Linked DNA regions of Homo sapiens: all the other regions are reported to be linked to region 2. Evidence: microRNA targets listed by miRTarBase, many of them from high-throughput screens and not tested one by one. Region 2 holds a microRNA gene; each other region holds the end of a gene's coding sequence.

Region 1 (10,467 bases), not on the chromosome of region 2:
CGATACATGGAGTGGCAGATTTGGGTTGCTCACTCTCCCTCTTTCTCTGCCAAGAATTTTTATCAGTTCAAACCCACTCTGCTACTCGGGGCTGCTGAGAGGCCCAGGTGTGTCTTTCTGAGCACCTTGCTCAGAGCTGCCTCTCGGCAGGGTTCCACCTGTCATTGCCTGCCTCAGTGGTCTCTGCTCCATTGCAGAGTTGTGGGCCCTTGGTCTCGTGGCCTGAGGTCCATATTTTGTGGACCACTGTCCTGTACTGAGCACTATTCTTGGAGCACGAGGTCATCACATGCCACCTCCTACCCTCCTCCACATGCTACAGAAAACCTGCTCCGCATCCATCCTCTCGTCCTTGGAAATCTGGCTCCCTGTCCTCTCCTCTCCTTCATTGCAGGTACAACTTGGATCCCTTTGAGAGTCACACCGATGAGATGCTCTGGCAGGTTCTGGAGAGAACATTCATGAGAGACACAGTAGGTCTCTGGGGCTGTTGAGGAGGAGTTTGTTTCCCAGCACCACTGCCCTAGATTCCTGGCCTATGTTTAAATTTGACAAGCACCTAGGCCAGCACTTAGCCAGGTTTATTTGTAGACACCACGTAAGTCAGTAGAACATAATCCTTAGTTATTCTTTCCTATTAAAAGCAACAATAGGGCTCTACAATGATCCAGTCAAGAGCACTACATGTATCATCTCACTTGGTCCTTACTACAATGCTCTGAGGTTGGTACTCTTACCCCTAATTTTAGAGATGAAGAAATTAAAGCTCAGGGAAGTAACATGCCCAGGCTAGTGAGTAGCAGGATGGAGACTTGAACTCAAGCCTGTCTGGCTGTAGAGCAGATGGAAGGCCCTGCTACTCTGCCAGTGGCCTCATTTGCTATCAGAACAGACAAGCCACAGAAAACAGAAGGGTGTGGAATGTTCTGGGAATGGCAAGTATGGCTGGTTGGAGAGGACCGAACCATCTGTGAGAGGGAACCCTGTCCTATAAGAGCTACAGCCCCAGCTGGGGTCAGCAGGTGAGCATGGACACCTCTGCAGCCCAACGTGATATTTTTCCAGGACTTGGTACCGACATGAGCATCTTCCAAGGCCACTTTGGCTTGTCACTCTGGATAAGTCAGACCCTGTCTTACCCTTCCTTAATGTCCAGAAAACTCTCCCATCCCATCTCTATTTGGTCCCTGGAAACAGCAATCCAGAAAGCTGTTTCCACTTGTTTGTTTGCTCTCTGGGACTGCATCTGCATCATTTGTTCTTTTGGTGAATTGTCTATGGGGTTCTATGAGTCATACTGTGATTTTAAATTATTAATGTCCGTCTACTCCCTGGTCTTTCCCTGGTGCCTGTTTGCAATATTGAAATGATTGTTGTTTTGCACTTTCTTTGCCACAGTAAAATAAAGCAAGCTGATGAATGCAAGAGAAGGGGGCAATCAATACAGACAGCATAGGACAATTTTATAGATCATCAGCACAAATGTGGCATTTTTTGTGTTTTGTAGATAATGAAACTCCCAGAAAAATTACAGGCAGAAGTCACAGAAAATGGAGAAAACTTCTCAGTAGGGGAACGTCAGCTGCTTTGTGTGGCCCGAGCTCTTCTCCGTAATTCAAAGGTAAGAAAACACGGAAAATGGATTGGTCAAATTTTGGATATTTCCCGCAGCGCCACTCAATCCAGGAGGCAGAGCCACGTGTATGTCTTTCAGCAAAGAGACAGCAATTGAGCCATTTAAAAACCGATCACTTTTTCTTAAGACAAAGTTGTGAGGGATAAAAATTGAAAAGTAACAGCCATTTACAGCAAGAGCACCTTCCCCTCCCAGGCTTCCCCTGGGGAGGTCTCGCTTAGATTTTCACTCTGCTTGCCTAAGTGGTTTGAGTTTGAAAAATCTGTCTCCCAACTTTCTCCCATTGTCTCTGAACAATTCTGAATCTGGATACACTGTCCCCAGGATGCTCAAGAGGGCCATCAGAATGCTAGGATATGGGAATTGTAGAATTTATACTTATTTTTCTTTGTAACTTAGCCACCCTTACTTACTGATTTCCAGGAAGGGATTGCTGTTGCTTTAGTAATGCCAGTCTCTGAAGCCTCATCAAAGATGTGACCCATTGTGTGTATTCTCTAGATGTGCTAATGTCAGGGGAGAGGGGCCGGCGTGGATCTGATGCCTGCCGTGGCACTGCATGCTGCTAAGTGGTTTAAGTGTAGTCTCCATATCCAGCTCATCAATAAGGCATAGCCCCCTTTCACCTACGAGGGAACAGAGCCTCGGGGAAGTTAAGTAACTTGGCCAGTCAAGCAGAGTCAGGGGTTAAGTTCAAGTGCTCTGATTTGCTAAATCAAATCCGTCCTGTGATCAGCGGAATAATACCCCCACCTCCCCAAAGATGTTAATGTCCTGATTTTTGGAACCTGCGAACATGTTCCTCCGAGACTTTTAATATATTAACTTACCTGGCAAAAGGGACTCTGCAGTTGCGATTAAGGATCTTGAGATGGGGAGATGATCCTAGATCTGGGTGTGCTGAGCATATTCATATGGGGCTTTCCAAGGAGGAGGCAGAAGAGTCAAAGAGAGAAGGAGCTGTGATGCCAGGAGGGGCTGTGGGCCAAGGAATGCAAGTGGCCCAGAAACTGGAGAGGGCAAGGAAACAGAAAGAATGCAGCCCTGACAATACCTTGATTTTAGGATTTCTGACTTCTGGAACTAGAAGATAATTTACACTGAGTCTCTAAGTTTGTGATTGTTTGGTATGGCAGCAATATAGGGAATGAATGTAGGAGCTGCTGTGCTTCATGCCGACTCAGTTTAGCACAGTAGATAAAGCCTGTGCAGCCTGTCTCCCTATGAGTTTGTAGGGTTAGAATAAACCACTTAAAAAGAGGAATAAAGGATATACAACCTTGTCCCTCTAGCAAGTTCCTTTGGAAAGATGGAGGTGATGTGATGTGACTTTTATTTCACTCTTGTTCTTCTCATTTTCTTTTTTGAGATGGATGTTTAGCTAATTACTTTTCATCTTGTGGTCTTATTTTTCTTCTTCTTCTTTTTTTTAAAGTAAATAGAGCCGAGGCTGTAAATTCCCCTCTCAGTGCGCCTTTGGCTTATAATGTTTCCTCCTCCACAGATCATTCTCCTTGATGAAGCCACCGCCTCTATGGACTCCAAGACTGACACCCTGGTTCAGAACACCATCAAAGATGCCTTCAAGGGCTGCACTGTGCTGACCATCGCCCACCGCCTCAACACAGTTCTCAACTGCGATCACGTCCTGGTTATGGAAAATGGGAAGGTATAGGAAGCTCTTTTGGCTTCACCTCCCCAGAAAGTCCAGTGGTTTGAGCTTTACAGTGGGTAGATATTTTCCGATGATTTCAGTTCTTCTTCTCTGACTTTCAGGTGATTGAGTTTGACAAGCCTGAAGTCCTTGCAGAGAAGCCAGATTCTGCATTTGCGATGTTACTAGCAGCAGAAGTCAGATTGTAGAGGTCCTGGCGGCTGATTCTAGAGGAGGAAGAGGCTCTGTGAGATGAATAGGAGGAGTCTTCAGGAGGAGGGGCTGTCCTCTCCGCAGGCAGCCCTGGTCTTCAGCCCCTCCCATCCACGGAGTGAGCTGGGGCTGAAGTTGTCCCCACTGCCATACTCAGTCCATGTCACCCCACTTGGTGGGCTTGGGGTTGGTTCTGGGTGGTGAACCGGGGCAGACCCAGCTAATGGATTAAAAAACTGCCCTTCACCTCCCAAATCCCCAAGGGTTCCTCATGTGTTTTCACCAAAACCACCCCAGTGCCTGAGATTGAAAATATTGTAACTTTCAGTTAGAAATCAGCCACAATAAACAACATGGGAAAATGCCTTAGGATGGAGTTTGCAAGGTTTCCTTGCCCATTATCAGAAGGAAAAAGAGCAGAATTTTCTTCTCGTTTAACCCCACTCACTTCCATCTTGACTGGGTGACAAGTGGTAATGACACAGATTTGTAGCGTGAAAGACTGAATACAGTGTTTGGCCAAAAATTTTTTTAAAAATCATATTATATGTTTCAATTGATCTGTTAGAATAACCAAGAAAACAAAATGCTGGAGTTTCTCTATAAATGACACTTTTATATCTTCTTTATTCGTCGTTAAAACGCGGTAGGAAATTACCCTGAAATGTCGCCTTGCAATTATTTCACTGAAGATATTCCAATTTCCATACTATTTCCTCCAATAGACCCTTGTTGCCTTCTCCCTTCACTCAGTAATGAACCTTCACAGTCGCTTACCAAACAAAAAGCTTTCTCTCCAACCTGGAGGCTGGTTCTGATGGAAGCAGTAAAGATGTATTCCCAGCAGCCCCAGGAGTGAGCGCTGCTAACTCATGGTGACATTTGGGAAAAAAATATTTATAGAAAATCCAGCAAGCTCTTGTGTAGTAGCCGCCAAGGGGCACGCTGGGAGTTCTGGCTGTTTTTCATTCATCAGGAATGAAGGCCCCATGAGGTTCCCTGGGCCTGCTTTCCAGGCCCCAGGCTGAGCTCTAAATGTAGCTCAGGGCAGTGTGGTCAGCAAAGCTTCCAGACCACAACCCCCCACCCCACTTCCCTTGTAAGTGTTGGTCACGTACTTGCTTCCCCAGACGTGGAGGAAGGAGTGCCTGGCACCTGGAAGCACTCGGGAAACACTTGTGGCAGCCATGAATGACAGCATCTAATGAACTCGCTGAAACACAGCTGTGGAGCCTGGCGGACACCCCTCCCAGGTGTGTGTGCATGTTAAGAGCTTAATCTGGATTTCTGGCCAAAAAGCCAACAGCCAGCAATTCAAGGGCTGGGCATGTGAGGTTAACCTCCAACCGATTATTCTCCAGCCCTCCTCCGGCCAGGCCTGGGCAGGGGTCTACCCAACCAGCGGGGAGGTGAGCACACCTGGCCTTAGGTAGAGCTTATAACCTGGCAACTGCATGAAAGCCCTGGCCCAGCAGCTTGGCAGCAATGGATCCTGCCCTCAGCAGAGGGTGCACTAAGACATGTGGCTGAGAAGGACGTGAGCCAGGGGGTTCCTTCTGTGGGCAGCTCCAGGCCAAGTGTGGATCTCTCTGTGAAGGGACACAGTGTATCTTTGCCTGATCTGAGCTTTCCCCCATGGTGCATGACCCTGACTGAAGGTCATTAAACCCACATCCACAGCGTTCTGAGCAGCTGCTCCCAGCTGAGTGTGGGCATCACCTTTATGGACATAAGATAACTTCCCCAATATGACAAGCAGACTGGGCAGTCTGTGCTGGCCATGGGAATCCATGACAGTTGTGCAATGTCAGGGAGGGATGCTTTACTTTCTACCAACTGGACACCAGCCAGATAATCAGTCTGTGATTTCAAGAGGTGGTGTTTTCATGAGGACAGAGGATAGACTACAATGATCCCTGCTGCTCCTTCAGATGCATTGAGAGATGAATCACCTCCTATGACTCCTTTTCTGCCCACACTCGCTTTGGTTTACTCTGGCAGAAGAAGAACACCGACATTGATCCTGATGTCTACTGAGACCTTGCAGTGTGCCAGGACTGTGACAAGCATTTTTTCCATGAATTATTTCACTGAATCCTCATCTCACCCCATGAGATGGGATTTGAGGCTCACTGAGGTTAGTAACTTATCTACAGATGCCCAGGAAGGAAGGGACAGAGATAGGGCTTGAACCCTAACCAGTCTGGCTCCACAGGCCCTGCTCCCAACCCCTTCACAACAAAGCCCCTCCAGTCCTTTCCCCTTGGCCTGTTGCAAGGACAGTGATGGTCATCAGTATCATCCCTGGGGGAGAGTGACTTCTGAGGGTTTGGCTGTTTGCATGTATAAGACACGAAACCATCTTAGCAAACCCCTCTCCCACCCCAACCCCTTGCTATCACTGCCATGTCAGCCAAGGGGAGACTATGTAGAATAATAGTAGCCATTTAGCCAAATTCCTCAAAGCACAGGCTTAGGTTATTAAATCCTGAACATATCCCTGTGGGGTAGGTGTCTGCTATGATCTGAACATTGTGTTCCCCCAAAATCCTCCTGTTGAAACATAATCCTCAGTGTGACAGTATAGAGGTAGGGCCTTTAGGAGGTGATTAATTAGGTCATGAGGGTGGAGACCTCATGAATAGGATTGGCTCTCTTATAAAAGAGACTTGGGGAAGCTTGTTCACCCCTTCCTCCATGTGAGGACACATAGAAGGCATCATCTGTGAGGAATGGGCCCTCACTCAACACCAAATCTGTTGGCACCTCGACCATGGATTTCCCAGCGTCCAGAACTGTGAGCAATAAATTTCTGTTGTTTATAAATTACTCAGTCTAAGATATTTTATTATATCAGCCTGAATAGACTAACACAGTACAAGTGTTATCCTTATATTACTGATGAGGAAACTGAGGCATCAAGAAAGTAACTTGACCAAGGTTAGCCACTGGTGAGATTTGAATCCAGGCAGGTTGACTCTAAAAAGTGTGCTCCTCCAGGAGTATGAGACCAGCCTGGGCAACAAAGTGAGACCTCGTCACTACAGAAATACATACAATAAAAATAAAACATGTGCTGTTAAATTCCATGCAACACTGCTAGAAATGCAATCCTCCTGGTGAGAAAGAGCAGTGCCTGTGTTGTAAAGCCTGAGTACTGGTCTGGGTAGACTCAGTTATGCTGCAGTAACAAAAGACCCCAGACCACACTGGCTTATTTCTTGCTTATGTGACACATCCATCACAGGTGAGCTGTGACTGTGCTTATCCTCTTCACTCTGTGACCCAGCGGAGCAGAGCAGTCTCTGCCAGGAACATCATGTTTTGTGGTAGAGGGCAGGCAGACATGGCAATCGGAAGTGATACATGCTACTTTCATCCACATTTCATGGGCAAAACAAATTGCCTGGCTGCTCCTGAGTTCAACAGTGTGGGTAGTGGTGGTGGTATATACCCTACTCCACAGGGAGGGCCACCATAAGGCACAAGGACCAAGCTTATTCCAGCAGGAGTTGTATAAGCTTCCTCTTTGGAGGGGCAGCAAATATTTTGAACAATACAACAACCTACTATAGCCTGGGTTGGGATCTTCATTCTGCCACTGAGTGGCTGTGTGATATGGGGAAAGTAGCTTGCCTTCTCTGAACCTCCATTCCATCTGTAAAATTTGGACAAAGTGCTAAGGTCTTTTTCATTCTTGACTTTCAATATAGGAGAAACAAAAAAGGAGATATGAAAACAGTTTCTATTGGAATTTGGGCATTCAGAGGGGATTAGAATGCCCTATAAATGTAATTAAATGTTTTTGTTGTTGTTGTTGCTGTTGTTTTGAGATGTCACCCAGGCTGGAATGCAATGGCGCAATCTCGGCTCACTGCAACCTCCACCTCCCAGGTTCAAGAGATTCTCCTGCCTCAGCCTCCTGAGTAGCTGGAATTACAGGTGTGCACCACCATGCCTGGCTAATTTTTGTATTTTTAGTGGAGACGGGGTTTTACCATGTTGGCCATGCTGGTCTTGAACTCTTGACCTCAAGTGATCCGCCCACCTCGGCCTCCCAAAGTGCTGGGATTACAGGCGTGAGCCACTGCGCCTGGCCTTGAAATTTTTATTCTCATTTATTTCAGTGCCCCAGCTTTGCTGTGCTCTGATATCATCTGCCTTTTGGGTGATCATATGCTCAATGTTATGAATTAGGACCTTTTGAATAGTAGATGCCAACAGAGAATGGAATAAGCCACTTACAAGCATGTGGTTATAAATTGGTAACAAATTGCCTGTGACTTGTTTCATCAACACTTGTATCCTGGAGCTAATTTTGAGGCTACCTGGTCTAGAAAAAGTGTGGACAAATTAGCCCATAGGCCAAATCCAGCCAGCCCACCTGTTTTTATAAATAAAATTTCATCAGAATGCAACCATGCTCATTTGTTAATTCATTACCTATGACAGCTTTCACATTCCAACAGCAGAGTGGAGTGATTGTGACCAAATGTATATCCTCAAAGCCCAAAATATTTACTATCTTGTTCCTTTACAGAGAAAGGTTGCTGTCTTCCGATTTGGGGCATTGGCGTGGGATATGATTCATATGAGGGGGAAGTCTGTTGGTTGTCGGGATGGGGTCTGGAAGGCATACCCTCCCGTTGCCTGGTCTATCTGGGGAGTCAGCAGCCTCGTGTGAGCATGAAGGAAGCAAGACAGAAGGACAGAGCACAGGGACTTGCTTACTGCACGGAGCTGCTGATATACCAACCCTGAAGTCACCCTACCTCTTGTCTTTTTTTTTTTTTTAATTGTAGATTCAGGGGGTATGCATGCAGTTTTGTTACATGGGTATATTGTGTGATGCTGAGATTTGCGCTCCTGGTGTGCCCATTACCCAAGTAGTGAAAACATACCCAATAGTCAGTTTTTCAATCCTTGTTCCCTCCCCACGTTTGGAGTCGCCAGTGTCTGTTGTTCCCATCTTTATGTCCATGTGCACCCAATGTTTAGCTCCCACTTACAAGAACATGTGATACTTGGTTTTGTTTCTGCGTTAATTCACTTAGAATGATGGCCTACAGCTGCATCCATGTTGCTGTAAAGGACATGATCTTATTCTTTTGTATAGCTCCTTCTTCTTGTCCTGTTATAGAGGATACATTTTCCTTGTTGTTTAATCCAACTCTAGTTGGTCTTGCTGTTACTTGCAGCCCAAAGTGTTGTAAACAACACAGAAGAGTCATATTCTCCTCTTGCCTGGGAAGATGCTGATCCTCACCTGAGGAAGAAAGAATCCCAGTCCCCGCACTGCGAGTTACACCGTCTCCCTCCCACTCAGATGTGGCCCAAGTGAGCCAGTTCACATTGAAGCAGGGAGGAGTTTCCGATTCTCATCTGTCCCCCAAGCTTCACGCAAATTATAAATATTCCCCTTGCCTTCCCTCCCTACTGCTTAAGATCAGAAAGACCCAGAGAGAACTCACAGATTTTATTCTTGCTGTTCAAGTGAACAGATCTGAAATTGGCCCAGAATTGTTGGTAAAATATGAAATGTTCTTTGCTAAGAGCTGGAATCACTTTGGCCAGTACAGCATGATTCAAAATGAATTGGAAAAGGCAGGAGTTCAGTTTTGGGTCAGATGGACGATCAAAGAAATCACTTTTCTTTTGGCCCTGTGTAGAAGGTCACTTCTGGGTAAGGCCAAATCAAGCATTAACGTCTTCAAATAAATGTCAATTTCCATGGAGAAGCCCTGCCTAACTTCATGATGTGCACGTTCCTGGCTTCAGCTGAGAGCTTTCCCTCTGCCGAGACCAGCATTCAAGGACCAGACCAAGTCAGTTTCTATTGTTTTAGCACAAACCTGCCTCCTTCACCTGGCAAGAGCCACACTCAAAGAAGCCTCAGCGTGGTTTGTGGCAATTGTTCTGCATTGCTCTAAATAATTTTTTTTATTATGGTAAAATGGAAATAACAAAACATTTACCATTTTAACAATTTTAAGTGTATATTTCAGTGGCATTAAGTACATTCACATTGCTGAGCAGCCATCACCATCATCCGTCTCCAGATATTTTTCATTTTTCCAAACTGAAACTCTGTGCCCACTAAACTCCCCATTCCCCTGTCCCCGTAAAACCCTGCAACCACTATTCTACTTTCTGTCTGCATGAGGTGCCTTATATAATGGAATCATATAGTATTTGTCCTTTTGTGTCTGGCTTATTTCAGTTAAGGTTCATCCATGTTGCAGCGTGTATCAGAATTTAATTCCTTTTTAAGGCCATCCTAATAAGTGTGAAGTGGTATCTCATTGTGGTTTTGATTTGCATTTCCCTAATGAGTTGTGTTGTGCATCTTTTCATGTGCTTATTGGCTTTGCATTTTTTAGAAAGAGAAATTGTGGTAGCCCATCTTGCAAGGTTCCTTTTTTAACATAGCTTTTTTTTTTTTTAAATGGAGTCTTGCTCTGTCACCCAGGCTGGAGTGCAGTGGCACAATATGGACTCACTGCCACCTCTGCCTCCCAGGTTCAAGCTATTCTCCTGCCTCAGCCTCCCAAGTAGCTGGGATTACAGGTGCTCACCACCACACCCAGCCAATTTTTGTATTTTTAGTAGAGACAGTTTCACCACGTTGGCCAGGCTGGTCTTGAACTCCTGACCTCAAGTGATCTGTCCTGATCAGCCTCCCAAAGTGCTGGGATTACAGGCTTGAGCCACTGCACCTGGCCAATACAGCATTCTCAAATGAATATTCTCACTATGTCAATGTGTACAGGAGCTCAGAGACTATAATTATTAGCTATGGGCTAAGAACCTGGCATACATCACATCATTAAGGCTTTAAAACAGCTCATGAGGTAGGAATGACTTTTCTTGTTTGCTCAGAGAGATTGTGTATTTTCCCAAGGTTACCCAGATGGCAGGGAGAGGAAACTGGACTTTTATCCCAGAGCTGGCTTTCCCAGTCCAA
Region 2 (10,467 bases):
AGCCAGAGTATAAGAGTTCAGGAATAGGACTGTGGTTAGGGTTAAAGTTACCAAAGTAAGTTAGGGTCAAACTCTGAAGGACATAATATTGGAGGCTATTGTGTATGTACTGTGTTTTACACATAGCATGCAACAATAATTGATTAATTAGGTGATATATATTTGTCTATTTGTACGAGTATGTAGCTGTGTGTTGGTATGTGCGTTACTTTTTTTTTTTTTCCGAGATGGGGTTTTTCTCTTATTGCCCAGACCGGAATGGCAATGGCGTGATTTTGGCTCACTGCAACCTCCTAGGTTCAAGTGATTCTTCTGCCTCAGCCTCCCTAGTAGCTGGGATTACAGGCATGCACCACCACACCCGGCTAATTTCGTATTTTTGGTAGAGGCGGAGTTTCTCCATGTTGGTCAGGCTGGTCTTGAACTCCTCACTTTAGGTGATCGGCCGACCTCAGGTGATCCGCCTGCCTCGGCCTCCCGAAGCTGGGATTACAGGCGTGAGCCACCACACCTGACGTGTGTTAACATTTGAAGAACCATTGAGGCCAAGCAAATATCAAAAATTGAAGCCAGAAGGACAGATTGGACCTAAGCTTACCTAGGCTTGGAGCTCCTGAGATGTTCCCCAGTTCCACAAGCCCGTAAGTTAGTCACAGAAAGCCAGCATTGGAAGGGACCTTAGGGACAGTGTTTATACTTACATACATTCAGTTATCCATTCAACAGATGTCTGATACTGCCCATAGAACTGGGATACAGTAATGAACAAAACAAGGACTGCCTTCATGGAACTTGTTATTTATTTATTTATTGAGACAGGGTTTCACTCTGTCACCCAGGCTGGAGTGCAGTGGCATGATCGTGGCTCACTGCAGCCTTGACCTGAGCTTAAGCAATCCTCCCACCTCAGCCTCCTGAGTAGCTGGGACTACAGGCATGCACCACCACACCTAGCTAATTAAAAATTTTTTTTTGTAGAGCCAGGGTCTCCCTACGTTGCCTAGGATGGTCTCAACATCTTGGGCTTAAGCGATCCTCCTGCCTCGGAGGCCTCCCAAAATGTTGGGATTACAGGTATGAGCCACTGTGCCCAGCGTAGAACTTATTTTAATGGGGAAAACAATGAAAAAATTAGTAAATCAATTATGTAATTCTATATGCATTATGAAGAAAGATAAGCAGGAGTAAAATGTTAAAAAGTGGCCAGAGTAGACCTCTCTAAGGAGGAAGATCATTACCAGCTGAGAGAAGGGCAGGTGAAAAGGCCCTGATGCAAGAGCATGTTTGTAGAATAATTAGAAGGCAGCCAGTGTGGCTGGAGTAGCAGCAGTAAAGAGGAAAGAGGCAGGAGATAAGGTTGGAGAGTGGGCAGCTGAGGCCAGAACATAGGGCCCCGAGGTCCATTGGGCTGATGAGGAAATGAAGTTGGCATGTAGCCAGGATCACACAGCAAGTTATGAGCCAGGCCAGGATTGGGAACGTTCTGGTTCAGGCTCCCTTCCTTTGCTCTCTGCCATCTTCTGTCTTTTGGCCAATATTAACTTGAATCCCATTTAATACCTTCATTTTCTTCTCCCTCATGTAGCTCTCTCCCATTTCTCAGACCTACATTTGCTCACATGATTTGGTAATAGAGTGATTTCTGGAAGGTCATGGCTAGAGTGGTCCTTGGACATCTTTTAGTTAAATCCCTGGTATTAGAAATCCACAGAGGGAAATTGGCCTGCTCAAGGCTACTTACCTAGTTAGGAGTAAAACTTGATTTCTTTTCCCCAGTTCTCTTGCCGTCTGGTGTCTGGCTCTTCATTTTCTGTGTGCCGTTCCCCTTTTCTTACAGTTTCCAGCGGAAGGGAATCAAGTTGTGACCCATGTAATTGACACAAGCAGCTAGCAGCATTCCAGGACCCCATGCCACCTGCCCTCACTTTAGCTTTTTGTTTGGTCTTTGTCATGTGAATTTACTGTTTGATTCAGGCCGGTGTCTTTGAACTACTACCCTCTGCAAAGACATGTTGCTAACTCTGCATCCTTGCTCATGCTATTATTTCCACACCTGAACTGGCAGCCTGCTCTTAACCACAGGTCTGTATCCAGGAGGCTTGTCTTTGAAGCCCAGCCCCAGTCTTATCTCCAAAGAAGCAATGTGGAAAGAGGATAAAGTTTGGAGTTGGATATAGTTGGATTTGAATCCCAGCTTTGGCACATGCTGGGACCAAAGAAATCTTAGACAAGTAACTTGACTTCTGGGAGTGGTTTTCCTGTTTGTAAATGAGGCTATTAACACCTGCTTCATGGGGTCATTGGAAGGATTATTTAAGGTATTGTATGTGTACATACTTTAAGCATTGGGTAAAGAGAAACTCTTATTCACTCCTCCTCAAAGGTGCCTTCTGAATGCCCTTTGCCTTTTTCGTAATACTTAATAGGTAACATTTCTTGGGAGGGTTTCTGTGTGACCGGCACTTTGCTAAGTGTCCAGTGCTTTTAAAAGGACTTACCACTGCAAGTGATTCCATAGTTGTCTCCAAATAAAAAGTTAATTTTTAAAAAGCACTGATCTCATTTTTTATATATTTGTTATTCTTGTTGTGTGTAGATAGAGGCCAGGTTAGGATTCAGTATATACCTGTGTTCCAGTTGTTGCTCTGTGATTTTCTAGCTGTGTAAACTTGGACAAGTCACTGGACCTCCACTCTTTTTTTTTTTTTTTTTTTTTTTGAGATGGAGTTTCGCTCTTGTTGCCCAGGCTGGAGTGCAATGGTGTGACCTCGGCTCACTGCAGCCTCCACCTCTTGGGTTGAAGCAATTCTCCTGCCTCAGCCTCCTGAGTAGCTGGGATTATAGGCATGTGCCACCATGCCTGACTAATTTTGTATTTTTAGTAGAGATGGGGTTTCTCCATGTTGGTCAGGCTGGTTTCGAACTACTGACCTCAGGTGATCCTCCCACCTCGGCCTCCCAAAGTGGGGGGATTACAGGTGTGAGCCACCATGCCTGGCCTTGACCTCTATTCTTAATGTGTTTTTCACACTAGAGCCCTAAAATTCAACACTAGTTACATTTGGAAACCTGACTTGCTAATCTGCTGACCTTGGAAAATGTGTCTTTGTTGAATACAGAGCAGTAGTACCTGGGCTGGCCCTGTGTGACTTAGAGCGGACAGTATGGGAGGTGGAGAACTGGGTGCATGGGAGCCATTAGATCAAGAATTGGAAATTCCTCACAAATAAAAGGTTTCTGGGGTAGGAGCAGGGGGCAGTGTTGATGGTGACTCTGCTTGGATTATCTTCTAGGGATGGAGGATTGCCAGCTCCATTGAATGGAAGGACTGGTGATGCGCAGCCACTCTTGCATGTGCCCGGGCAAAAGACAGTGTGTTGGTGGCAAATGCCTAATGTGTCTATGGCTGACCATGGGCCATCTCTGCCATTCAAGACATCAGCTCCTGGCAGAGTTGTATTGGTTTGATAGAGCTTTAGTCTTCGGAGTCGCACAGACCTGAGTTCAAATCCTTCTCTGCCATTTACTGTAATAATTGTGTTCCTTAGGCTGATCCTTTAGCTCTCAGATCCTCTTTTTCCTTTTCTCTAAAATGATGTGGTTGATATCTGCTTTTGAGGTTGTGAGGATTTAAAATAACAGGTAAATAGGTGCCACACAGTACCAGATACTTAGTTGGGTGAGTAGCCTGGTGATCTGTGGCTGTTAGCTCTTTGAAGGCCAGTATCCCTAGGAGATAGCAGCAACGTCAGCACTGCTCTGATTCCCTGACCAACCCCCAACCCCACCTTTGCCCTCAGAAATACCCTGGACCCTTGTTTCCTTCCTCAAGTTCAGACCCCAGAAATGTTGGGCAAGAAGGAGCCTCCAGGCCAGGCTTTATTGTGCCAGATGTTATATCTGAGTAAGCAGGATTGTTACACAGCAGAGATACAGGAGCAGAGCAGGTAGCTCAGGCAGCTGCTGATGAACAAAAGGCTTCTTCTCTCTGTTCCCAATAAATTGGTCCTTGGGGATCCTAGCTTTGAAATTCTAATTGACACAGGAAGGAAAAGATTCATTAGGCTCTGGACTCGTTAAAATGCTCTGCTGCTCACCTACGATTTATTCTTGGCACTTCATCAAGAGGAATTAAGTAAACCAATGGGCTGGGAGGCTCCTGACAGCAGAGTCGTGTGTCTCTCGTGCTCCTGGGGGGATGAGAGTGTTGGGTCTCCTATGCTATGGAGCATATAGCTGGCTTTGGAATCTCCTCATCCCTAGGACTTCACATGAGTCTAAGTCTCATATGCTTTTAACAATGGAGGGACCTTCTGAGATCATACTGTGTAACTCATTTATAGATGGTCCAAAGAAGAACTGGGACTTGCTCAAGATCACGAAACGCATTAGTAGTGGAGTTAGAATTAGAATCAGTCAGGCTGCATGACTTCCAGGTCAAGAATATTTTCTCTGCGGCCGGGCGTGGTGGCTCACGCCTGTAATCCCAGCACTTTGGGAGGCTGAGGCAGGTGGATCACGAGGTCAGGAGATCAAGACCATCCTGGCTAACACGGTGAAACTCCATCTCCACTAAAAATACAAAAAATTAGCCGGGCGTGGTGGCGGGCGCCTGTAGTCCCAGCTACTCGGGAAGCTGAGGCAGGAGAATGGCGTGAACCCTGGAGGCAGAGCTTGCAGTGAGCCGAGATCGCACCACTGCACTCTAGCCTGGGAGACAGCGAGACTCCGTCTCAAAAAAAAAAAAAAAAAATTTTCTCTGCATCACCTTTGGATTTCTACACCCAGTGTTTCATTCATTCAGCCTTCAACAGATACTTTTAACACATTCTGTGTGCCAGGACTCTGTGATAAACAAAACAGCCATGGAGGAAAGTAAATACCTGACCCAGTATTAGGAGAGATTAGAAAGGCCTCCAAGTCTGAGAGATGGATAGGAATTAGCTCAGCAAGGAGAGATGAGGAAGGTTATGGCTGAGGAACTGGCATCTATGAAAGCCAGATTCAGCTTTCCCTTCAGAGCCTGGCTTTGGCATCTATGAAAGCCAGGCTCTGAAGGGAAAGTTGAATCTTGCTAGAGTGGAGAATTGAGGAAGAGATGAGATGTTAAGGCAAGCCGAGTCTATGAGGTTTGGGCCACTGTATGGTTGTAAAGAACCCTGGATCTGGGATTAGGAGTCCTGAGTTCTAGATATGTTTCTGCTACCAATATGTTAGTCATCATTCTAGTAACACTTCACATCTTTTAGGTGTGCCATGATGGGCACTGGGGTACAAAAATGTGTAAGATGTATGTAGTCCCCTCCCTCAGAGATCTGTCAGTTTAATGAGGCAAGCAGGCTAATTAAGAACCCCTGTAGTAAAGGAACAGTTACCTCTGCTGTAAGAAGTCAGAATTGAGCTGTGTGTTACTTTAAGCACTTTCTCTGGGCTTTGATGATCTCACCTGTCAAATGGTAAATAACCACTGTCCTATGTAGCTGGTAAACTGATGAGAAGACAGACAACTTTGTAATGATTGGCGTTTGTTTGGCATTTTGTGGATTTCAAAACACTTTTGACATCATTAATTCATTGAACCTTAACTGCAATCTTATGACTTAGGAAATTTCCCCACAATGTACAGATGAGGAAACTGAGAGAGGTTGAGGCTTGTTCATAGTTTCACAGCTTTTGATTAACAAAAGTTAGGATTATAAATCCAAATCCCGTGCTCTTATTTTGAAAAGTATAAAGATGGCAACCTTTCTTTCTATCCCCTACTTAGTGGCAAATTATCCCCTTCCCCTTTTCACAGTCACCAGAAATGCAGAGAATGTCTGCTGTGTTTGAAAAGCAGATCTAAGCTGACTGGGGAGAAAGAAAGGAGCTTATTTCAGGTCTTCTTCAGGCTGGACTCTAAACTTTTAAGATCATGTGCGCCCGTGCTCCCATCAGCTCCTGCTGTTCCATCTCATGCCATTTACAGAGTGCCATTTACTGAGCCACTACTTCATTGGCTACTCATAGCAACTTGTGGGGTAGACAAAGTGCACTTTACAGATGGGCAAACTGAGGTCCAGAGTCCCTGAATTGTACATGTCAGAACCAGGATTGAATCTAGAAGTCTTGGGCTCCTGACACCAAACAGGTGCTCTTAACTTGCAGAATGTAGGTTCCTTTGATTCAGTTCGGTTCAAACAATTCTTGAATATAACCCATGTGCCAGAGACTTTGCTATGCAAGAGAGCCTCTAGTTAGGCTCAAACCGTCTTGGTCTAGTGCCTTACTTAAGAACAGGGACTTGTATTATTTACTTCTCTGTCCCCAGGCAGGACCTTGATCCAAAAATGCTTTGCTGTTGTTTTTGGCCTTAATCTGCCAGAAACTAGAGGGAGCAGATGGCCACAGCAATGTGGGTTATGAGGATGTGATATCAGGCAGGGTTGAAGGATGAATTGAGAGCCCTGCACCCAACTACTTCTGTGTCTGTGCCTAGGCCCTTGTCAGGGTAGTCTCTATCTGAGAGTGTAGCTGGTCAGCCTGGTCCCATTTCTCATTTCCAGTCACCTCCCCCTCTTGCCATCCCATATAATGGGGTTAGTCTCCTGGACAGATCTCATACAGAGGCTGCTGGGATCTGCTGTCCAAATGACCCTTTGGACCTATTTCCCAGCCATGTTCCAAGATGATGGTGAGGAGTCTAGCCCCACAGCCAGTATGCTATCTCTATTCAGATAACTCCCAGCTCACAGGCCTCCCACCAGGCTCTCACCCACTCTGATGTTTTCACTCCTGACTCCTAAGAAGCAGATTGGCAATTTAGTGTGAGTCTGTCAGACAGCCTAGAGAGTAATCAATACTGAGAGAAATGGACATATTTCCTGTTTATTCAAAATCCTGATGAAAATTTTAAGGAGCACTATTTGGGAAGGGATGACTGGGAACCTTGCAAGAACAAACAGCTTAAAATTCATGAACAGAAATAGCAACGTTTATTCATGATGTTTCAAATGCCCCTAATATTCACATCTTTATATATTACAGACCCCTTTCATACGTGTTACTGCTTTTGAACCTTAGAGCAACTCTGTGAGGGAAGCAGTGTAAGGATTACTATTCCCACTTGACAGTTGAGGAAACTAAGGCCCAGGAAGCTTTAAAGAGAGTTAGGGACCATCTGATAGTCATGGTGGCAGAGCCCAAAACAGAACCAAGATTTGGAAAATGAGTACTCCTGGGTTTGAAATCTGGTGCTCGCCACTTTCTAGTTGTGTGACCTTTGGCAAGTTACTTGGCCTCTCTGAGCTCAGTTTCCTTCTCTGTAATACGAGGATAACAATGTCTACTCCTTATGGTTGTGTATGGATTTAATGATATAATTAATGGAAAATGCTAGCACAGTACAGAACATGTGTTAGGAGCTTAGTAACTGCAGGTATCCTATCTCATAGGATAGCGTTTTCAGTATATTGCACTCTGAGTCTTTGAAATTTGATACTTTTTTTTTGTTTTTGAGACAGAGTCTCGCTCTGTTGCCCAGGCTGGAGTGCAGTGGCGTGATCTCCGCTCACTGCAAGCTCCGCCCCCTGGGTTCATGCCATTCTCCTGCCTCAGCCTCCCCAGTAGCTGGGGCTACAGGCGCCTGCCACCACACCTGGCTAATTTTTTTTGTTGTTGTTGTTGTTTAGTAGAGACGGGTTTTCACCGTGTTTGCCAGGATGGTCTCCATCTCCTGACCTCGTGATCCAGGTGCCTTGGCCTCCCAAAGTGCTGGGATTACAGGCGTGAGCCACTGCGCCCAGCCTGATACTTTCACTACAGTAAAATGGACTACATATAATAAATTCTCATTAACCAGAGTATCATTTAAATGCCTCACTAGGTTAAGAGAACTGGATAAGAAGGGAAGCAGGGTGCTCCAGGCACTGGCTAAGTACTCCTGATGCAAATCACAGTAGGTTAGAGCTGACAGGGACCCTAGAGATCTGTCCCAGTGTGTCTTCCTCAAATTGTGTCTTCCTCAGAAGAGATGTTAATAATTTGGGAAACATCAGATTGAATAATGCTAATAAGTAAATTTCTTTACCGCTGCCTTTGCAGACCCTTATTGTGTGTGTCTCTTGGGAACGAGTTGAGAGTGCAATATGCCAAATTTCCTCTTCTTATTTAACCTTGGAGCCCCTTTTTTGAGGAACTCTCATTAACATCTTGAGGAACCCTGGTTTTCCGTGGAAGATTTCATGTAACTGACTCAGTCCAGTTCTTTAATTTTTAAGATGAGGGAAGCTTAAGGTCTCTAACCAAGGTCTACAGCCCATGGCAGAACCAAGTCTAAATCTCAGGGTGCCTAACTTTTTCCTAGGCCACACCATAATTTGTACTCCACTATTGTTCCTTTTCTAGCCAGCAAATCCTAAAATTACAGAGGATCCTGCAAACCACTAATCAGAGAGCATTGTTAGAGCATCAAGCTTTCTGTTTTGATGTGTTTATCCCAGTAGGCAGGAAAATGAGGAAACAACAGGCTTAATGGCCATCAGATGTTTCCAAACAGTTGAAGGACCAGGGGTCAAGTAATTATCTCAGTAACTGGAAAGGTGCCCTTACCGTGCAAAGTCGAACTCTGTTCTTCCTGCTGTAAGAAATTTGAGTTATATCTGGGGGACTCATCCAGTAGGCCCACAGTCCCCACAGTCCAGCTCCTACTAAGAACTAAGCTCTGACACCAGTAATATAAAAAAGATCCTGAGAGGGGTTTGAAGAGAATGTGTAAGTTTCTGCTCCTCTGTCACCGTCTCCATCACAAAATTGAGGGGGTAGGAATGTTCTGCTGGATTTCTATCCAGACAGTGGCAGAGGAAGTTGGCTTTGGCATTTAGTGGGGCTATCCTTGCATTTTACTAAGCCCTCTAGTTAAGATCAAATCAAGTTTAAAAAGAAACTTTTTTTTTTTTTCACTCTGTTGGCCAGGCTGATCTCGAACTCCTGACCTCAGGTGATCCGCCTGCCTCGGCCTCCCAAAGTGCTGGGATTACAGGTGTGAGCCACCACATCCAGCCCAAAAATATCACCTTTAAATTTGCAAGTTTATATGGTAGATTGTTCAAAGCACATCTGATCACAACACAATCCCGTGACATAGAGGTTCTTTTCCATGTATCATATGAGGACGTTAAGGTTCAGAAAAGAGATGGTGACTTGTCCAGGGTTTGACGGCAAATTAGTGATAGACCCTTTTCACAAGTGCCTAGTGCAAGGCCAACATTTAGTAGATGTTCAATAATTTTTTTTTTTTTTTTTTTTTTTTTTTTTTTTGAGACAAGGCCTCGCTGTGTCACCCAGGCTATAGTGCAATGGCACAGTCATGGCTCACTGCAGGTCCAACCTTCTGGGCTCAAGCAGTCCTCCCACCTCAGCCTCCCAAGTAACTGGGACTATAAACATGTACCACCATGCCCGGCTAATTTTTAATTGTTTTTAGAGACAGGCTCCCACTATATTGCCCAGACTGGTCTTGAACTCCTGAGCTCAAGCAGTCCTCCTGCTTTGGCCTCCCAAAGTATTAGGATTACAGGCGTGAGCCACCATGCCTAGCCAAGAAATATTTATTAATTGAAAATTTTAGTACATTCTCAGGGATTAACTTATGGTCTCCTAACTCTTTGCCCAGTATTCTTTCCATTAAGATAGCTTGGTGGGGCCAGTGGTTGGGCTTCATCTCAGGGTGACCAGATAATAAAGAGAGGGAGGGCTGAATCTCTGTCACTATTGATATTGCTGACAAGGATGGCATTTTCTGGCCTTTGCTGCTGTCCTTATACATACTACCCACTACAGAAAGCCCAGATTCAGTAGTCTCTGGGCTGCAGACTCAAGCTTTTGTTGCCTTTGCTCCCTGTAGTATACTGAACAATGATGCCAGTGACCCCCAGCTTCTCACTCTGCCTTCTCCTTTATTTTCTTTCTCATCAGTGTCTTACATCTCCTTCTATTCTGCTGATGGATGAGGAATTTGAGCTCATCTCACAAACATCAGCTACACGGTTCACTGTTAAGGAGTTGTTGTATCATGTACCTTGGGAAACCATTTACTGAAAAACGCCCACCTAGGATTCTTTCACCTGTTCACTAGCAGAAATTTCACTGGTTGCTAGTATAGTGCTGGAGGCTGGGATTGCAAAGATTAATAAAATAGTCTCTGCCTTCAAGGAGTTCAGAATTTAATGGAGGGAGACAGATGTGTAAATACAAAAGTGCAGCAGATGTTGCAGTAGAGGTCAGCAGAGAGTATCTGGGTCCAGAGGAGTGAGTGGCTGGATCTGCCTACGGGGTGGGATACAAAAGCTTTCCCGAAGAGTTTTCTACAGGGACGTCACATCAGTGGGTTTGTACTCAGAAAACTCCTGGCCCCAGCCACCACTGCCAGATCAGAAATTGGTTGCAGGCTGGGCATGGTGGCTCAAGCCTGTAATCCCAGCACTTCGG
Region 3 (10,467 bases), not on the chromosome of region 2:
TTAGCCAAGCATGGTGGCACGCACCTATAGTCCCAGCTACTTTAATGCTGAGTTGGGAGCATCACTTGAGCCTGGGAGGTGGAGGCTGCTGTGAGCTGAGATCACACCACTGCACTCCAGCCTGGGTAACAGTAAGTCCCTGTCTCCCAAAAAAAGGGACATCATCTTAGCAGGACACAGAGGAAACTAGAAGATAGTGGAGCAATATACTCAAAATTCTGAGGGGAAATTTTTTCCAACCTAAAATTCTGTACCAACTCTTATGAGCTGGATTGTGTCCCTCCAGTGTTTCTGTGTTGAAGCCCTAACCCCCAGTAACTCAGATAGGGCCATTTAAAGAAGCAATTAAGTTAAAATAAGACCATTAGAGTTGGCCATAATTCAATCTGGTGTCCTTTTAAGAAGAGGAAATTTGGACATAGGAAGGGCCATGTGAGGACACAGCAAGAAGGCAGCCATCTGCAAGCCAAGGAAAAGGGTGTCAGAGGAAACCAAACCTGCTGACACCTTGATCCTGCACTTCTAGCCTCCAAAACTATGAAGAATAAATTTCTGTTGTTTGAGCCACCCTATCTTTGGCATTTTATATGGCAGCCCTAGCAGACTAACATACCAACCAGCCTATCAATGAAATATGAGATTAGAAAAAAGGAACTCACAAGAAGATAATCCTCATGCATCTTTTCTCAGGAAGCTCCTAGGAGGTGTTCCTCACTAAAATGAAGGAATAAGGTAGAAATAAGAAAGTCATAGAATCCAGGAAATAAGGAGCCCCCACTAACATGTACGGCACCTAGAGAAAGGCCAGTCCAGGTACGGCAGGGCGAAGGCCCAGGAGACACAGGTTTGTCAAAACAGATGAACTCCATGCAATGCAGGCTGTGATTGAATAGAGGAAGAAGCCAAACACAGCTATTGACACCAGGATGAATGGAAGGCTGTGCGGCAAAGGAAGACTAAATGCAGCTGTGACTCAAATTTACATGAATGTGACCACATAAATACTAAACAGTGCTCTATTGCAGGTATAACATGCTACAGTTAGTGGGGAGCCAGGTGCAGGGATGTGTGTTGAACATTCCAGAATCCTCTTCTTCCTAGGGAAAAGTTGAGATAATGCCTCAGACTGACTAGCAATAAAAGCATGTGAAAAAAAATATGTGCAGTTTTCAAAGGTTTGGGAAAAAACAATCCCTCTTTCTGCTGATGGAAGGATAGCTTAGTGGAATGTTTCTGAGGGCTGGTTGGTCTCTATATGTTAAAAGCATTAAAAGTGTGTACACACTTTGACCCAGGAATTTGAGCTCTAAAAAAAATCAGAGTTGTGTGCAAATACATTAAGCTGCTTACCACAACAATGTCCACTGGTAGAAAACTGGCCCTCCTACATCATGGAATTCTTTTTTACAGAATTCAGTTCTGTAGCCTTGGGAGTATACTAGACAGGAAGTTTATTGGCATGAGATTTCAGAATTAAGTGGGAAAACAATTCTTTAAGCATGTACAGAAAAGTGACCTGAAATGTTTTTGGGTGATGAACTTACAGACTTTTTTTTTTTTTTTTTTTTTTGAGGCAGGGTCTTGCTCTGTTGCTCTGCCATCCAGGCTGGAGCAGTGGCACAATCATAGCTCACTATGGCCCTGGCTCAAACCATCCTCCCGTCTCAGCCTCCCAAGTAGCTGGGATCATAGGCACATACCACACTGAGCTATTTTTGGTAGAGATGGGATCTCACTATGTTGCCCAGGCTGGTCTTGAACTCCTGGGCTCAAGTGATCCTCCCACCTAGGCCTCCTAAAGTGCTGGGATTACAGGTGTCAGCTATCGTGTCCAGCCTGAGATATTTCTTATGAGTAATGTGGATGGTACGTGAGTCCATAGAGTAAGGCATTTATTGTAAACCTCCAGGGAGTTTCTGAAAATAGTATCTTCTCTTCAAACCTAGGATGAAGCTGGAGGCAGATTCGTCGCTTTCTCTGGAGAAGGACAGTCATTGCGTAAAAAGGGAAGAAAGCCCTAAGTGAGGACTGTTGGCTGATTGGAAAATAATAAAAGAATCATTTGCAACATCTTGGCTTTTAGTTACTGGCACTGACAGGGACGAGCCTCATCAGAGAATACTCTGTTACTTAAGATTTATTTAGAGTTACCTAAGAATTATTAAGTTTGACTTGGAAGTGGAGCAGCAGGACTTTGTAGTTGTATGCTTGATTTGGGGAAAGACAAAGAGCTGTCCCTGAGGGCCTGTAGATAGCTGCCTCCTCACCTCTTCACGCTTTCAGCTTGAGGGGAGCTCCCACTGCCTCAGCAGGAGCAATTCTGCATCCCTAATTCTGTCAAAACCTATGAAGGTGACTAAATTGTCTAACATGAAGTGTTCTTTCTTTTTCTTCATTTATCCTTTCTTTTCCTACATCAATTGCATAGGTGTCAGTCTTTGGCCTAAAAAAAGGCTTTAAATAGACATGTGTTCTATAAGTAGTGGCTGTCCCACTACTGTGGCTGCAATTTAAGTATTTGACAAAGAATGTTTCTATTTTTATTTTACATATTTTTTTCAAAAACACCACTCAGAAGAACCTGATCTGAATGAGTTTGCACTTTTATTCTCATTTCATATGGACATAACTGGCTCCTTAGTGAACCTGTTCATAGTGAAACAACTCCATGGAGAAGCAAACATGTGAATGTTAGAATGAACAAATGCTAAAGAGATGTTCCTCTCCTTCTTCCCTACTCCCCAACTCCCAATTTTAATTTATTAAATCATCCAAGCTTCTGCTGGCCTGTATTTTTTATCAGTATTTATTTGGTCTTAGATCTTCACTTTCTATAACGTGAGATCTTTTGACATGCTAATCTGATTATTTTAAATTTGTTCCCATGAGCCACTGTGCCTGGCCCCATTGGGAATAATTCTAAGCCAAGAATTTCAAGTAAAAACAGGCAATAACTAAAGCCTAAATCTAAATGTTTGATTAGGTACTAACACAGACTGGTGGTTGGGCCTCTGACCATAACTGAAGGCCTGTTGGCAGGTGCTCCGTGTTCCATCTCACCATTAGAAAAGTGTCCCTCTGGGGCTTCTCCTGGAGAAAGTAGGAAGAAACAAGGCTGCCTGATCCCTAGGTGGCAATGGCTAAGCCCAGCAGGGTCCCCCATGAGCCAGGGCTAACCCTGCTTCCAGACATGGGGGTCCTGCCCTGGTCAGGGCCCCTCCAACACTCCAGAGAGGAGAGAATGGTGGCCCCAGGGTCTATCCACGTCTTCAGTGAAGAGTGTCTATGAGTGTCATGATGTTCAGTACTTGGCCTGTGGCACAAACCATCATCACTGGAAATGGGCGTGGTTTTGGAAGGCATGAGCACTGTGGGGACTTACCTGAGCCTCCACTGACAAAGTCTCAGTTTTACTAGCAGAGGGAGAAACCCTTGGTGGGTAGACAGCCTTCATTTGCAGGATCACATCAGCTAACAGACTGTCACTTTATGCATAATGAAGAATGTTACAGTACCTCTGGCTCTGGGTTTTTGTCTTCACTAAGCAACACCTGCTGTGTATGCAGTGAAACGCCTGGTCCTTTGCTGGAGGCACACTCCCCTGCCTGGACCAGGATGGATTCCATTGCAGAGCCTTTTAATGACACAGTGGGGCCAGTTGGAGCACTGATCCTGGTCATTACTCCTGCACCCTGGCCTGCAGCCTTCCTCTCAGTGTCTTATTTGGGCTTGGTCCTTGAGCCGGCTGCCTCAACAGCAGGACCCCTGGTAAAACTGCAGCTTTCTGATCCACCTCCAGGGAGTCTGTCCCAGTGTCATTCCTGGGACTGGCCCAGCAGTCCCAGGATTTGTATCAGTGGATACTGAGGATTTGTTATCAGTGAAGTGGGAGAACCGCAGCATAGGTACTGCAGGGCGTTTCTGCAAGCCCACCAGCCTCCTCTTTACTTGCCTTTGTTGCCTCTTGTGCATTGCTCCTTTTTATAAACGTCCCAGCCAGGCACTGGCGCTCCGCCTATAATCCTAGCACTTTGGGAGGCCAAAGTGAGAGGGTCGCTTGAGGCCAAACTAGCCTGGGTAACTTAGCAAGACCCCATCTTTACAAAAAAAAAAAAAAAAAATTAAAAATTAGCCTGGTGAGGCTGTGCATGCTTTTGGTCCCAGCTGTTCGGAGTCCAGGAGTTTGAGGTTGCAGTAAGCCATGAACACGCCACGCCACTGCACTAAGCCTGGGTGACACAGCAAGACCCTGTCTCGAAAAATGAATAAGGTAAATGTTACATGTCTCCCGCACCCTTAGAATAGAACTACAGACATCCAAGCCACTCCTACCCCGCTCACCCCTGCTACACACCGCCTCCATACCTTTGACCGGCCTATGGCTGTACTCGGATTGCATTCTCAGCCTCCACTTCAAGCCTGCGTTCCCTGGGGAGGTCATTCAACCCTAGATCCACCATATGTCATGCCCAACCAATCTCAGTTACTTTGCGAGTTCACCTCCATCCTGAGTGGACGCTCAAGCAAGACTGCTGGAGCTGCAGATCTGGGAGGTTCGCTGCACCACCTTGATGCTCAGTATGTACTTTTGAAAATATACCGGATTGTTGAGATTTGAGAAAATCTCATAAAGCTGCTGAAAAGAACTGGCCAGAGCCGTGTGATTTGAGAGGCGGCTGACGTAAGGTAGCTGCGCGGCCCAGGATGCCCGCCTGGCCCGGGGTGAATGGCGCTGTCGTCGCGGTGGTCGCGTAGGCTTCGCGCCAGGTCTCGCCCCGGATTTACCCTGCGACCCCGGCCCTCCGCGCGCGCCGCAGCCGCCCTCGGTTGCTATTGGTTGCTCGTCCTGTTTGTCGGCGCTTCTCGAAGAAGGGGGCGAAGACGTGATTGAATGTGTCGGTGCTCATTAGTTCTTCTGTCAGTCGATCACGAGGTGCCGTTTTCTTCATTTTTCATTGGCTGGCGGACTGAGGGGCGGGCTTGGCGCGCCGGTCGCCCAGACATGGCGGACGGCAGCGGCTGGCAGGTGAGTGTGCTGGGTCGGAGCCGGGAACCACCGGGGTCTTCCGGAGGGAGGGAACGGGACTGGCTCGGGGCGTAGGGCGCGGCCGCCGGGCCCCGCTCAGGCGCCGCCTCTCGCCGCAGCCGCCGCGCCCCTGCGAGGCCTACCGCGCCGAGTGGAAGCTCTGCCGCAGCGCCAGGCACTTCCTACACCACTACTACGTCCACGGCGAGCGGCCGGCCTGCGAACAGTGGCAGCGCGACCTGGCCAGCTGCCGCGACTGGGAGGAGCGCCGGAACGCCGAGGCCCAGGTGCGCCGGGAGGGAGCGGGGCGGCGCTTCGGAGCGCCTTGCGGGGCCCAGCTTTCCCCACCCCTCCACGCCCCATGCCCCGCGACCTAGCCGGGGACTGACGGGGTCCCTATCCTCCTCACGCTTCCTTTCTTTTGAGAGATTGTGTAAATTAGCATATCAACAGGACTTTCAGAGGGCGTGAAAGACAAAGGAGGAGACCAGCGAGGAGGGGGTGTAGAGTGGTTTAGAGAGGGAAGAGGGCAGCCGTCCGGTGTTAGGGTCATCAGCTGGCCTACGCAGGAGGTGATGTTGCTGAGTCCTGAGTGACCAGGAGCCAGCCTTCATCCAGCCCCGGTAGACACCGCTGAGAAACAGATAAGGCCTGGGTTCCTGAAGCAGAGGGTAGGTGGATGGTTGGAGAGCGGTATACCAGGGACCTGGCGGGCCTTTTGATACGGAGTTTAGAGTTTAGTCTAAAGTGTGCTGGGAGGCATAATTCGATTTATATCTTTAAAAGATCAGTCTGTTAGCAAAGTGTGGTGGCGTGCACCTGTGGTCCCAGCTACTTGGGAGGGTGAGGCGGGAGGATCGCCTAAGCCCAGGAGTTCAAAGCTGCAGTGAGCTATGGTCACACCACTGCACACCAGCCTGGATAACAGAGGGAGACCTGTCTCAGGGGGGAAAAAAAAGAGAGAGGGTAAAAGAAGTTCAATCTGTTTGCTAGGGTGTAGAGAATATATTACAGGAGCAGAGAGACCGGTAAGGAGGTGGTTCTAGTTGTTTTTTCGTCCAGCAAATATGTACCACATTGGGTGCTCTTGGGGATGCACGAGTGATAAGAAGAGTCTCTGCCCTCCTGGCACCCACACTGTAGTGTAGAATACAGTGCTACGGTGGACCCCTTGTGGGAGAGGAGATGGAGAGAAGCCAGCCGAAAGGTGCGAGGCTCATGGGGAGTGCCAAGGAATGAGAATCAATGGGACTGATCAACACTTCAACATTATTAAGTGTATACAGTGATCTGAAAGAGATGAACTGATGTGGAAACCAGACTGCTGTATAAAAGAAAATGATGACTATTCCATAATATGTGAAAGTCAAAAAAAGTAAGAAAGCTGACAGCTTATATAGCAAGAGATTGATAACTTTAATGTATATATATGTGCGTGTGTGTGTATAAAGAGCTGTTATATATATATCAATAAGAAATATAGGGATTATTTCAGAATGGAAAAATGGCCAAAGGACACAAAGAAGCAATTCATTAAAAAAGAAAGCCAGCTGGGCATGGTGGTGGGCACCTGTAATCTCGGCACTTTGGGAGGCCGAGGCAAGGGGATCGCTTGAGCCCAGGAGCTTGAGACCAGCCATGGGCAACATGGTGAGACTCCATCTTTATAAAAATAATAAAAAAGGAGAAAAGCCTGGGCATGGTGGCTCATGCCTGTAATCCTAGCACTTTGGGAGGCCGAGGTGGGCAGATCACCTGAGGTCAGGAGTTTGAGACCAGCCTGGCAACATGGCGAAACCCCATCTCTACTAAAAATACGAAAATTAGCCACGCATGGTGGCAAACACCTGTAATCTCAGCTACTCGGGAGGCTGAGATAGGAGAATTGTTTGAACCTGGGAGGCGGAGGTTGCAATGAGCCGAGATCGTGTCACTGCACTCCAGCCTGGGCAACAGAGTAAGACTCCCTCTCAAGAAAAAAAAAGAAAAAATCAAATGGCCAGGTGTCAGGTATATAAGTCTAAATGACAGTAACAGCAGAAAGTGGTGTTGATAGAGGTTTGAAGAATTCTGGGTAGTTGTGCAGTGTTGGTGGGGGTGTCAGGTGTTCTGATTATGTAAATGTCAGATACATACCTTTTGACCTTAAGTTTTACTTCTGGAACTTTATCCCAGGGAAGTAATTGGATAACAGTGTACAGTTAAAAGTTAGAATGCTAATTATGTTTTTGATACTGCAAAAGCTGAAAACAACCTAAATTTCACTAATAGACATTTGACCAAATAGCTTTTTCCACAAAGTGAAATACCAGATAGCCTTTGAAAAGAATGGTCGGTCATCTCCCTGGGTATGGAAAAGTGCCTACAGTGTATTGTTTAGTGAAAAGAAAGCAGGAAGTAGACTAGCCAGCAAAAGATTATCCTATCTTTAGGGAAACATGTTAGCTCTAAAATGTGGACCAAAAAAAGATATCAGGGAAGCTGTTAACTGCCGCATTGGGAATGGACATTTGGGAATCTTTAATATTCTGTACTACATTTCTGATAGCTTTTTAAACACGATCAAAATATTTTATTTGAGGCAATAGAGCTTGAACAAAGACAGACATGTAGACAGATTAAGTTATCTGTGTAAAGAGGCTCACATAGCACCTGATACCTACCAAGGGCTGACAGCAAAGGTCACCCATGTTGTGATACACTGACTTGTGTCTGTATTGGGAGACAGTAGCCAAGAGAAGCTGATGGGTTAAGTGGCACTTGTGGCACCACTCAGGCGGGTGGTCTGTCCTCTGGACTCTTCCCACCCTTCCAGGATACCCAGGACATGTATTTCTTCCCCGTCTTCCTCCCTTCTCCCTAACACACTCCTCCCTGCAGCTCCCCACAGCTGCTCTCTCAGACTCTTCTCTCCTCTCCACCCAGCACCCCCAGGCTCACTCTCAGCAGGTGAATATGCCCCAGACTCACGAGGTCAACCAGAGCCATTGAGCCCTGAGGTCCAGGAGAAGATATTTAAAAATTCCTCAAATTATTATGACCTATTCAGTAGTTTTTCACAGTAGCTTGTGAGAAAAAAAATGATCTCCATCTCTGTGCGCTAATATGGAAGAATCGCCAAGGTATAGTAGGTGGAAGCAGCTGTGCTGCAGAGTGGTGTGTACCATAGGCCCTGCCTGTCCATCTGTGTTTCAGAGGGTGATGAGAGGGGGGAGGTACAGGGGTCTTGAGGGTGCTCAGAGCCTGGGGAGTGACTAGAGTCTCATTTGCACAGCAATCCCTCTGTGAGAGCGAGCGGGCACGAGTCCGGGCTGCACGGAAGCACATCCTGGTGTGGGCCCCGAGGCAGAGCCCCCCTCCAGACTGGCATCTCCCTCTGCCACAGGAGAAGGACGAGTGACAAGCATCCCTGCCATTGGCCTGTGCAGCTTCCTCAGTCTGTTTCAAGTTGCTGTTGCACAGCCCTGGGGACTGTGACCAGCCTACACAGTCTGGTGGGTCCCTGTGAGCTCTTGCTCACAGGAACATGGAGCAGGACATTGCTAGCCCTACTTGCCCACCCCTCACCTGCATGCAGGATACCCTGACACTGCGATGTTCTGCAGGACAATTGCACCGCTTTAGAGCTTCCAGGAGGCCAAGCATTATGGCAGGTACTTGTGAGCAGCCAGGTCAGGCTGGGCATGGTAGCATAGGAGATGGCGGTCCTGAGGTCTAGGCTTCTCAGGTAAACTGAAGGGTAGCCCTGACCTGTGTGGACACACAGGTGGGTCATAATGAGGTAGCTAAACAGTTGTGCCACTGTGAATGTCTTTCCTAGTCCTTGGGAAACTGCCTGCCACGTCCCAGGTTTGGTGAGCATTGTGAGTGCTCACACTCTGCTCCACTCGCTCAGTTCCACTGCACATGCAGGCAGGTGTGCCGAGCAGGTAGGGCTTGCTGGCCCCTCTGCACCAGCAGGCTTCACTTCTTAGGCTCCCAGGTCGGCCCCTGGAGACTCTGGTTTTTAAGAAATGCACACAGCTACAGAACACACAACCTTGCATAAAGAGGGTTTGTGGACTCAGCTGAAGAAATCCAAGTCCAAGACATATGGAATTAAGCACTCCTTCCCTCAAAATTTCCCCTGGTGGTTAATGTATCAAAAGCTATTTCATCTGATTTCAAATAGAAGCTGAAAATTAAGTTCACACTTGTTAGATTTTGTGTGTAACAGTGTTGTACCTGGACAGTATTAGAAATTTGTATGCTTATTCTCTTGTTAAGTGTTTTAAAATGTATGAACCACCAAAAACACTATTTCTTGAAGAGGTCTGTTTATTACTAATAGAATGGTTTCTCATCCTATGGTGGCCCTGTTGTGTGATGCTGAGGGCTAGGCTGGGTCTGTGCCCAGCACCCTCCCTGCTCTCTTCCTGGACACAGGCAGCAAGTTGAATATCTTTTAATTTGTTCTTTGGGGCAGAATAATCTATCACGTTAGAAGGGTGTCCATTAAAGAACAGTATTTCCCTGCTTGAGTGTGTTTTCTCCTGTGCTCCCTAAGAGCCCCTGTGTCTGTGAACAGTGGGGGTGGGGGTGGGGGTTGTGCTCACGGGATCCCAAGAGCAGGAGCATCTAAAGAGGAGCCAGCGTTCCCCCATCATCAGGGGAGTACTGATGTGTCTAAGGCAACCAGGGTGCCTCCAGCATGGCTGTGGCTGGTTTAATAATGAGCATTTCCACCCAGTGAGGGAAGAGAGGAAGACTGCTAGAGATCTACAAGGTTTTTCTTACTCTTAAACACAGGGACGGGGCATCTGAATTTGCAGTCTGCTGTAATCCCAGCACTTTGGGAGGCCAAGGTGGGTGGATCACTTGAGGTCTGGAGTTTGAGACCAGCCTGGCCAACATGGTTGAAACCCCCCATCTCTATTAAAAATACAAAAATTAACTGGGCATGGTGGCACGTGCCTGTGATCCCAGCTACTCGGGAAGCTGAGACAGGAGAATTGCTTGAACCCCAGAGGCAGAGGTTGCAGTGAGCTGAGATCGTGCCACTGTACTCCAGCCTGGGCGACAGAGTGAGACTCTTGTCTCAAAGATAAAATAATAAAATGAGTTTGCAGCCTGCATGTGATGCCTGGGATTGCAGCAGCTGCCTTCAGGTTCCTGGGGCAGAGCTGGAGAGTGCAGCAAAAGCCAGGGCATGCCAGCCAGCACCCCAGTCCATGAGGGGCTTCCCCTCAGTGCAGCCACGCTCCCTGCCACCTGCTTGTTTAGCAAGGTATGCATTGTGCGGCTGCATGCTCTGTTAGGAAGCATTAAGTCCTGCCTCTGTAGTGTGACTATCATGTTTTGCCTCCTCCTTCACTACTCAAGTTCCACATCAACAGATAATCTCTCTGGACAGGATGTTCCTGCATTTGTTTCTATGTCAATTGCTTCACAACATCTGAGTG

The links. Region 2 holds the annotated microRNA hsa-miR-4755-5p (UUUCCCUUCAGAGCCUGGCUUU, at 5,010-5,031, shown strand). A microRNA usually pairs through its seed, bases 2 to 8, with sites in the 3' UTR of a target mRNA and lowers its output. Matches are read on the target gene's strand: a 7mer-m8 pairs with bases 2 to 8, a 7mer-A1 pairs with bases 2 to 7 and ends in A, and an 8mer does both.
Region 1: the mRNA of ABCC12 is a reported target of hsa-miR-4755-5p. The part of its 3' UTR that is shown has no 7-base or 8-base seed match.
Region 3: miRTarBase lists UFD1 as a target of hsa-miR-4755-5p. The part of its 3' UTR that is shown has no 7-base or 8-base seed match.

The regions. Positions count from the first base shown.
Region 1 is chr16:48,076,747-48,087,213 of GRCh38, reverse strand. It overlaps ABCC12 (ATP binding cassette subfamily C member 12), which reads left to right. Exons shown (of 31, transcript NM_001393797.1): 28 at 395-473; 29 at 1,508-1,621; 30 at 3,141-3,305; 31 at 3,413-6,332. The coding sequence ends at 3,499. Among named protein-coding and RNA genes, the nearest start is that of ABCC12, 74 kb to the left of the region's middle.
Region 2 is chr20:34,044,119-34,054,585 of GRCh38, forward strand. It overlaps MIR4755 (microRNA 4755), which reads left to right and starts at 5,001; the gene lies at 5,001-5,072. The region is part of intron 2 of RALY (RALY heterogeneous nuclear ribonucleoprotein); the gene reads left to right. RefSeq lists an enhancer at 1,692-2,500.
Region 3 is chr22:19,442,224-19,452,690 of GRCh38, reverse strand. UFD1 (ubiquitin recognition factor in ER associated degradation 1) reads left to right here. Exons shown (of 12, transcript NM_005659.7): 12 at 1,947-2,780. The coding sequence ends at 2,021. It overlaps C22orf39 (chromosome 22 open reading frame 39), which reads left to right and starts at 4,980. Exons shown (of 3, transcript NM_173793.5): 1 at 4,980-5,026; 2 at 5,146-5,313; 3 at 8,301-10,467. The coding sequence starts at 5,003. The coding sequence ends at 8,426. It overlaps UFD1-AS1 (UFD1 antisense RNA 1), which reads right to left and starts at 5,257. Exons shown (of 2, transcript NR_186687.1): 1 at 4,366-5,257; 2 at 1,003-1,097. RefSeq lists a silencer at 5,035-5,434 and an enhancer at 4,882-5,784.